Linked DNA regions of Homo sapiens: region 2 is linked to region 1. The links come from fine-mapping of genetic effects on gene expression. A gene starts in region 1. The other region holds a variant in brackets. All regions are shown on one strand. Distances are from middle to middle.

The links. PIP is the estimated chance that this variant, and not a neighbour inherited with it, causes the effect.
Region 2: its variant is the best candidate, but not a certain one, in a credible set for the expression of AKAP7 in whole blood (TOPMed, PIP 0.51).

Annotation. Positions count from the first base shown.
Region 1 is chr6:131,132,835-131,138,034 of GRCh38, reverse strand. It overlaps AKAP7 (A-kinase anchoring protein 7), which reads right to left and starts at 2,568. Exons shown (of 8, transcript NM_016377.4): 1 at 2,253-2,568. The coding sequence starts at 2,271. RefSeq lists enhancers at 1,941-2,000, 2,437-2,937 and silencers at 2,261-2,370, 2,521-2,610.
Region 2 is chr6:131,191,104-131,196,303 of GRCh38, reverse strand. The region is part of intron 5 of AKAP7 (A-kinase anchoring protein 7); the gene reads right to left. Among named protein-coding and RNA genes, the nearest start is that of AKAP7, 58 kb to the right of the region's middle. The variant C/A (reference allele first, on the strand shown) is at 2,872.

The DNA of each region.
Region 1 (5,200 bases):
CATGCTCGCGACAATGACAACTACGAACAATGACTATGAAGAATGCAATGACAGAAAAAAGCTAACAACAAATGCCAAGTTTTTAGAAAGGAGATATAAAATTGCATATGCTCTATGATTTACAATTATGTGGCCAAAGGCTAAACAGTATAAACTGCTTGTAAATGCTGACAACTATATTGAATATATTCATGTTTCTCATTTCTGCTATTCAAACGTTTCAAAATTGAATATTACCTAAGAAAAACAATACATACATTTTAAGTATATTATAAAACCATACCTTTAAATATATGCAAATATTCAAATACAGGTGAAGCAAATGCCTTCATCAAAAACAGGCCAACAGGGTGGGCCGGGTGAGGTGGCTCACACCTGTAATCCCAGCACTTTGGGAGGCCGAGGCAGGTAGATCACGAAGTCAGGAGATAGAGACCATCCTCACTAACACGGTGAAACCCCATCTCTACTAAAAATACAAAAAATTAGCCGGGCGTGGTGGCACACACCTATAGTCCCAGCTACTCGGGAGGCTGAGGCAGGGGAATCGCTTGAAGCTGGGAGGCGGAGGTTGCAGTGAGCCGAGATTGTGCCACTGCACTCCAGCCTGGGCGACAGAGCGAGACTCTTGCCTCTAAAAAAAAAAAAAAGAGAGAGAAAAGGGTATGGAGAGTTCTCCCACTGTCACACAAAATGCAGGTTTCCTAACTGGATAATAAATGACTACTCAATTTTGTGAAGTAAGTCTCTCATCACTCTACTAGGTAAATAGTAAATTTATCCCAGCTGAGCAAGTTGGCTCACACGTGTAATCCCAGCACTCAGAGAAGGACTGCTTGAGCCCAGGAGTTCAAGCCTTGGTGACATGGCAAGACCCCGTCTCTACAAAAAAAAAAATACAAAAATTAGTCAGGCATGTTGGCACAGACCTGTAGTCCCCGCTACTTGGGGAGGCTGAAACAGGAGGTTGGCATGATCCCAGCCGATCTAGGCTGCAGTGAGCCATGATCGCGCCAGTGCACTTCCACCTGAGCCAACAGAGGAAGACCCTGTCTCTAAATACATATATACATATATACATACATACATAAGTACATACATAAATAAGTTTATTCCTAAGAACAACTGGAAAGGGCTAAGGGCATCCATTCTAGTCCTGGCTTAGCTACTAAAAATAGTATTAGCATCTTACACGTTAGTAAATGTTGACAGCTGCGTAGAAATCAACAAGTTACTTGACCTCCAGGCTTTCCTTTCCTCCTCATAAAAAGGGAACAAAAGTAAAATCCAAATTATTAGGGAGAAATGGACAAAACAAGTTAATAGTGTCCGAAAATGGATGAAAGGAGGAAGTAACCTCCACAAACATCTTAAACTTTATGAGTAAGGAAAATATACAGATATGCTAACAGGATCCTGAATTGCAAAGCCACGGCACTTAAACAAGGAACTGGAGTATGGCTCTTTTCTCCTTAACAATTTCCATTCCCATGCATTTCCTAAATGCAAAAACTCACTGTCATCATTCACTTAACAATTGTCAACATATTCACACGATTAACTGCTATTTATATAGTACACTTTAACGTTTTTATGCTTTTTATACTCTTCTATGAGTTTATCCTATGAAACTCTTGCAGAGGAGCACCTTTTCTCTAATTGGTTTGCGGACCCTTTTACCGAAAGTCCACCCCTAACTCGCTCTATCACAAAGTTCAGTTCACAACAAACGCTGACCTAAACTGGAAATTCATTCCGGGCGCTAGTGTAGACTTGGCGCCAGTTTTAAAAGCGGTCATGTCCAAACCTGGCAGAAAATCCTAAATGAGACAGTATGGTGGTTCGGGTGCTTAATATTTGTGATATAAGATAAAATCGAAATTTTACTAGGTTTTGTTTACATTTACCCACATCAACACCGTCGGAAGGAATGTGTACTGGCATGAACTTTGTGCAAAGGGTCACAGGATGAGAAAGGGAGAAAGAAAAGTGAAACTCGGGGATGGGCTCATACCCCCGCCTCCTGTCGGACCCACAATGCGTGCATTAAAACGCTTCGCTACAGGCAGCACTGATGTACACCCCGGTTGCACCGGGCTTCTCGGTGCTACCCTGAGTCCTTTTGGGAAGGAGGGAGACTCGGAGAAGGGCCGGCGCGGGTCAGGCCCTCCCAAAGTTCGAGCGCAGAGCAGGCCCAGGCCCCCGCGGCTCCTGTCGCCCCCGCCCCGGCCCGCTGGACAGCCCGGTCTCACCCGCTTCGGGGCGCTCCATGGTCGCGGCGCATGCGGGCGGCGCGTCTGGGCTGGCGGCAGCGGCGGTGGCGGGCCGCGTCCCGGGGCTGGAGGCGAGGCCGAGGCGGAGGCCAGGGCGGGGCTCGGGGCCTGAGGGCGGTGCGCTGGGCCGGCGCGGGGTCCAGCGACAGGCTGCGGGGGCCCGGGCGGCGGAGGCCAGGCCTGCGGAAGCGCGGAGCTTCCCAAGCCGCAGCCCCCGCGGCAGCGGCAGCAGCGGCGGCGGCAGCCGCAGCAGCCGCAGCACCCGCATGCCAGGCCGGACGCCGGAACAAGCCAGAAGGGGCCGACCCGAGTCGCCGGTGGTACCCGGATTCGGGCGAGAGGCGCGGACGCGCTCGGGCAGGGCGGGGGAAACTAGGGCCGGCGACTGCGGCGTCACGGCAGCCCAGGTCGTCTCGACTCTGCAATGCGACGCTGGGTCTTCGCCTGCCTGCCGAGCCCCGCGGCCTCCGACGGCCTTTGGCAGCCCTCATTTATTTCCCGTGGCGCAGCCTTGCCCCTCCCACGCTTTCAAGGGCGAGATTGGGACTAGGATGAAAGAATTCTCTGGCCTGGTGTCTTTTGAGAATCCATGTGCTTAGTTTTGCAATCAGGGTTCTGATTGCAGAATATTTGGGAAGAGCGAAATGTACAAGAACGAGACCTTGTACTTCTGTATAATGAGATACTTTATTTACCTTACTTTTAAAAACTGCAAATTGTGACAAAGTCTCTAATTTTTAACAATGATGTTATGTTTAGACATTAAGAGGAAACCAGTTGCTGGTTCTTGTAGTATAAGGTACTGCAGTGAGTAAATTGGGAGAAAAAGAAATTTACTTAGTTTAAAAAAATAAAAACCTTTCACTTGAAACGGAATGCTATTGGGATTGGTTTTAGTGCGAAGAAACCAGGGGTTAAGAACATTAGGTGCATCCGTCCACAAATTAGCGCCTTTCGTGAATAATAACACTTCGCTTATGTTGAATGCATCGTAGAATAGGGATGGAAGAAAAGAAGACCCCTACACAGCCACAACAGCTGGCGTAAAGGCTGCACACTAGAAGTCGGCAAACTAGTTACTCTGATTTTCAAATAATTCTAACACGTTGAGTTTCTGATGCCCATTTATGGGCTGGTAGGAAAGTACAACCAGTTCCCCTAATATTTATTTAATGCTTGAGCTCTGTGCTGAGGATGTGCAGGTAAGACAGGTCTTTTACTTATGGAGCTGATCATATAATAGCAGAGAAAGAAACATAAGTAACTGCGGAAATAAAAGCTGCAAAAATGTGGTCCACATTCATAGTGAAGAGGATGAGAATATGCCACCCCAAATATGCCACTTCAGCATAAGGATTATTCTTGAGCTTAAAACAGTTCAGAAACTAAAGACTCAGGAACAACTTTGACCTCCCCCTTTCTGCCTAAAAGCAGGACATAAATTTCCCTTCGTAAAGGTGACATAAATTTTTATTTTTAAAGCTTTACCAGGCCGGGCCCAGTGGCTCACGCTTGTAACCCCAACACTTTGGGAGGTCAAGGCGAGTGGATCACTTGAGTCCAGGAGTTTGAAACCAGCCTGGGCAACATAGCAAAACCCTGTCTCTACCAAAAATACAAAAATTAACCAGACGTGGTGACCCATGCCTGTAATCCCAGCTACTCCAGAGGCTGAGGTGGGAGGATCGCTGGAGCCCAGGAGGTGGAGGTTGCAGTGAGCTGAGATGATGCCATTGCACTCCAGTGTGGACAACAGAGCCAGATCCTGTCTCAAACAAACAAACAAACAACAAAGCTTTACCACTCACCCATACCAGAAAGAGGAGAATGAGTCTTACCTGCATAACAAACCCATACATTTTCTAGTAACCTTCCCATACTGCAAAAAGGCTAAGCCCCCTTTTCCTTTGTCTAGCCTCTCCACACTTTATCATCGTTAAAATGGTATAGAAGCCCCCAGTTCTAACTGCCTCTTCGGGCTTTTAGTTCTTTCCTGTGAAGCATCTATGTGCATGTGTAATAATCCTTTTCTCGTCTTAATCTGTCTTTTGTCAATTTAATTTACACAGTCCAACCTAGTGAACTAAATGGGCAGGAGAAAGATTTTTCTTCCCCTGTGGTGTGTACCAAGAGATATATGGAAGTTTCATTCTCTTACCTAAGCAGAGGTAACAGCCCAAATGCCACATATTTTTCACCACCAGTATTATGAATACAGAGTCTTATCAACACCTACCATGTGGAGGAACATTTTAATTACCCAAGTCTGAAAAAGGAATTTTTCACAGAGCTTCTTTTAGAAATGACAGGGAGAAAGGGAAGTACAAGGTGAACCTTGGACATCTTCTTGTGCCAAAAAGCAAAGACAAATGGGGACTATCAAAAACACAAGGACTAGCGAGAAACAGCTTTCTTTGAGCAAATGGGAGATAATCTGACATCATAAAAGGATAACACCTGTAATTATTGTAACATACTGAATACAAAATCTATATACCCATAATAATACTCAAAAAATGAGGAAGAAAAACTAGTAGGCCACCATTAAAGGTGACAAGTACGCAATTCCTTAGTCTCCTTACTCTAAAAATTAAAGGGAAAGAAAGATTTACCATGACTTTTTAGAAGTAGTAGTATGGGAAAGCTGCTTTGCACAGAAGAATTTTCAATAATAAATATAGGAGACATAAAATAATTGGAAAATTACCATTTTGCCACCACAACTGATAACTGATTGATGCAAAGATCATCAATATATTCTAAAACCATTACATGAAAGGTTAATGTGGACCGAAATATTTATAAGTTGCCAAAATACTACCCCCCACAAAATACTTGGTAATTGCTCAGGAGAGAACATATTTTTACTCCATGTAAATAAACCTGGTTGTCACCACCTTTATCGTGATTAAACTCAGCATCATTAA
Region 2 (5,200 bases), 58 kb before region 1:
ACAGAGTGAGACTCCGTCTCAAAAAAAAAAAAAAAAGCAACTGACATGCTGAAGAATGCATTAGAATCTCTTAATAACAGGGCCAAACAGGCAGAAGAAAGAATTAGTAAGCTTGAGGACAGGCTATTTGAAAATACGCAGTCAGAGGAGACAAAAGAAAAAAGAATATAAAACAATGAAGCCCACCTACAAGACCTAGAAGATAGTCTCAAAGGGACAAATCTCAGAGTTATTGGCCTTAAAAAAAGGGAGAGAAAGCGGTAGGGGTAGAAAGTTTATTCAAAGGGATAATATCAGAGAATTTCCCAAACCTGGAGAAAGACGTCAATATTCAAGTACAAGAAGGTTATAGAACACCATGCAGATTTAATTCAAAGAAGACTACCTAAAGGCATTTAATAATCAAACGCCCAAAGGTCAAGAATAAAGAAAGGATCCTAAAAGCAGCAAGTAAAAAGAAGCAAATAACATACACTGGAGCTCCAATATGTCTGGCAGCAGACTTTTCAGAGGAAACTTTATAGGCCAGGAGAGAATATCATGACATATTTAAGATGCTGAAGGAAAAAAATCTTTTACCCTAGCATAGTATATCTGATAAAAATAGCCTTCAAACATGAAAGAGAAATAAAGACTTGCCCAGAGAAACAAAAGCTGAGGGATTTTACCAACACCAGACCTGTTCTATAAGAAATGCTAAAGAGAGTTTTTCAATCTGAAAATCTGAAAGAAAAGGACATTAATGAGCAATAAGAAATCATCTGAAGGTACAAAACTCACTAGAAATAATAGGCACAAAGAAAAATATGTACTATTGTAACACTGTAACGGTGGTGTATAGATTAGTCCTATCTTAGGAAGAAATATTAAACAATGAACCAATCAAAATAATAACTACCACAACTCTTCAAGACATAGTTCTATAAGACATAAAGAGAACAACAAAAAGTTAACAAGTGAGAAGACAAAGTTAAGGTGTAAAGTTTTTATTAGTTTTCTTTTTGCTTGTTTGTTTATTCAATCAGGGTTAAGTTGTCATCACTTTAAAATAATGAGTTATAATATTTGCAATCCTCAGGGTAACCTCAAAGCAAAAAATATACAATTGATACACAAAAAATAAAAACTGAGAAATTAAGTTATACCACCAAAGAAAATCACCCTCACTAAAAAAAAGGCAAGAAGAAAGGAGGAGGAGAGGACCACAAAACAAACAGAAAACAAATAACAAATGGCAAGAAGAAGTCCTTATCAATAATAACATTGAATGTAAACAGACTAAACTCTCCAATAAAAAGACACAGAGTGGCTCAATGGATTTAAAAAGACAAGATTCAATAATCTGTTGCCTGCAAGAAACACACTTCACCTATAAAGATGCACACAGACTGGGAAAAAAAGGATAGAAAAAAGAAATCCCATGCCAATGGGAACCAAAACAGAGCAGGAGTGCATATGATTCTATCAGAGAAAATACATTTCAAGACAAAAACTGTAAGAAGAGGCAAAGAAGGTCATTGTATAATGATTTAGGGATCAATTCAGCAACAGAAATAACAATTGTAAACATATTTACACCCAACATTGGAGTACCCAGATATACAAAGGAAATATTTTTAGAGCTAAAGGGAGAGACTCCAATACAATAATAGCTGCATACTTCCTGGATACTTCAACACCCCACTTTCAGCACTGGACATACCTTCCAGACAGAAATTCAAAAACGAAACCTCAGACTTAATCTGCACTATAGACCAAATGGACCTAATAGATATTTACAGAATGTTTCATCCAATGGCTGCAGAATACACATTCTTTTCCTCACATGAATCCTTCTCAAGAATAGACCATATGTTAGATCACAAAAAAAGTCTTAAAACATTCAAAAAACTAAAATTAATATCAAGCATCTTCTCTGCCCACAGTGGAAGAAAACTACAAGTCAATAATAAGAGGAATTTGGGGAACTATACAAATACATGGAAATTAAATAATATGCTCCTGAATAATCAATGGGCCAATTAAAAAGAAAACTGAAAAAATTATTGAAACAAATGATGATAGAGCTACAACATACCAACAAAATCCATGGGATAGAGCAAAAGCCATGCTAAGAGGGAATTTTATTGTTTTAAGTGCCTACATCAAAAAAAAGCAAAACTTTTAAATAGATAACCTAATGATGCATTCTAAAGAACTAGAAAAGCAAGAGCAAACCCAACCCAAAATTAGTAGAAGAGATAATAAATATCAGAGCAGAAATAAATGAAACTGAAACAAAATACAAAAAAATCAACAAAATGAAAAGCTGTTTTTTTGAAAAGATAAGCAAAATTGACAAACCTTTAGCCAGACTAAGAACAAAGATAGAAGAACCAAATATATAAAATAAGAGCTGATAAATGAGACATTACAACTGATGCCACAGAAATTCAAAGGATCATTAGTGGCTGCTACGAGTAACTATATGACAATAAATTGGAAAATCTAGGGGACACAAATAAATTCCTAGACACATACAATCTATGAAGATTGAACCATGAAGAAATCCAAAACCTGAACAGACCAATAACAAATGAGATAAACGTCATAATAAAACATCTCCCAGCAATGAAAAGCTTGGGACCTGATGTCTTCACTGCTGAATTCTACCAAACATTTAAAGAACTAATACCAATCCTATTGAAACTACTCCAAAAAATAGAGGGGAGGGAATACTTCCAAACTCATTCTACAAGACCAGTATTACCCTGATATCAAAACCAGACAAAGACACATCAAAGAAAGAAAACTACAGGCCAATATCTATGATAAACATTGATGCAAAAATCACTGAATTCAACAATACACTAAAAAGATCATTTATCATGA[C/A]CAAATGAGATTTATTTCAGGGATGCAAGGATGGTTCAATATATACAAATAAATCAATGTGATACATCATATCAACAGAATGAAGAACAAAAACCATATGATCATTTCAATTGATTCTGAAAAAGCATCTGATAACATTCAACATCCCTTCATAAAAAACTCAAAGAACTGTGTATAGAAGGAACATACTTCAACATAATAAAAGCTATATACAATAGATCCACATCTCGTATCATACTGAATAAGGAAAAACTGAAAGCCTTTCCTCTTAACATCTGGAACATAACAAGGATACCCACTTTCACCACTGTTATTCAACACAATAGAAGTCCTAGCTAGAGCAATCAGACAACAGAAGAAATAAAGGGCATTCAAACTGAAAAAGAAGAAGTCAAATTATCCTTGTTTGCAGATGATATGATCTTACATTTTTTAAAAACCCAAAGACTCCACCAAAAACTATTAGAACTGGTGAAAAAAATTCAGTAAAGTTGCAGAATACGAAATCAACATACAAAAGTCAGTAGCATTTCTATATGACAATAGTGAACAACCTGAAAAAGAAATCCAAAAAGTAATCCTACTTACAACAGTCACAAACAAAATTAAACACCTAGGATTTAACCAAAGAAGCAAAAAATTTCTACAATGAACTCTATAAAACACTGATTAGATAAATTGAAGACAGCACCAAAAAAAATGTAAAGATATTCCATGTTCATGGATTGGAAGAATCAATGTTGTTAAAATGTCCAAACTACCCAAAGCAATCTACAGATTCCATGCAATCCCTATCAAAATTCCAACGACATTCTTCACAGAAATAGAAAAAACAATCCTAAAATTCACATGGAATCACAAAAGACCCGGAACAGCCAAAATTATCCTGAGAGAACAAAGCTGGAGGAATCATATTACTTAACTTCAAATTATACTACAGGGCTATAGTAACAAAAACAGCATGGCACTGGCATAAAAACAGACATATAGATCAATGGAGCAGAATAGAGAACCCAGAAACAAATCAATATATCTACAGTGAATTCATTTTCAACAAAGGTGCCAAGAGCATACAATGCAGAAAAGACAGCTTTTTCAATAAATGGGCTGGGAAAACTGGGTATCCACATGCAGAAGAATGAAACTAGACACCTATCTCTCACCACATACAAAAATCAAATCAAAATGGATTAAAGACTTAAATCTAGACCTCAAACTATGAAACTACTACAAGAAAACAGTGGAGAAACTCTCCAGGGCATTGGTCTGGGCAAAGATTTCTTGAGTTATATCTCACAAGCACAGGGAACCAAAGCAAAAATAAATAAATGAGATTACACCAAGCTTAAAAGCTTCTGGCTGGGCATGGTGGCTCACATCTGCAATCCCAGCACTTTGGGAGGCTGAGGTGGGCAAATTGCTTGAGCTCAGGAGTTTGAGACCAGCCTGGGCAACATGGATAGACCCCGTCTCTACAAAAAGATATGAAAATTAGCCAGGCATGGTGGTGCGCACCTGTAGCCCCAGCTACTTGGGAGGCTAAGCTGGGTGACAGAGTTGACCAAGTCTCAAAAAAAAAAAAAAAAACACCACGAGGACCAGAGGACCAGGCAGGCTGAAAGGCCATGAAGCCAAGGAGACAGGCACTGTCCAAAGTGCTGGTGGAGCCCAGGTCCAGTACCAGCACCCCAGTGAGCATTAGGTGCCAAACCACAGACAGCACACAAAGGGCCAAAACTGTTCCCACTGGCCTTGGACTGGTAGTAGCTGTCACTGATGACACACCTATCCCAAGGATGAATTCTGCATGGTCCTTTTCTTCTTCAAGTTGCTAGCTTCTGATTCAAAGTCTGCATCAGACCAAGATCATATTTTCCTTCCCTAGCAGCAAGGAAGTCTATGAAAGAATGTAACTAACACAAGAGATTGGTATAAAAAATTTAGATGCTGGGTAGCCAAAAAAAAAGAAAGACAAGTCCAGCATAAGCATGTTATGAAACAGTGAGAGTGTATTCCTAACAATTATCGTTGTAATTAACTTATCAACTTAGAGTTCATATAAATTACCAAAACTTCTCTTTTCTCAACTACCCTGTCATAACCCAACTTTGACCCTCTCTATTTTGGCATATTCACAACTGTTTTAAAAGAACCTCATGTTGAAATATTAGGCTGAATCATACAAAACTGTCACTTTTATGGGTCAAAAACAGTCAAATATTAGCGATGTCTTATGGTTTTACATATGTCATGATGGACTAACTTACTATGTTCCTAAGATTTGACTGATTAGAGCATAATTTCCAAGTCTTCGAATATTTGCAGAATT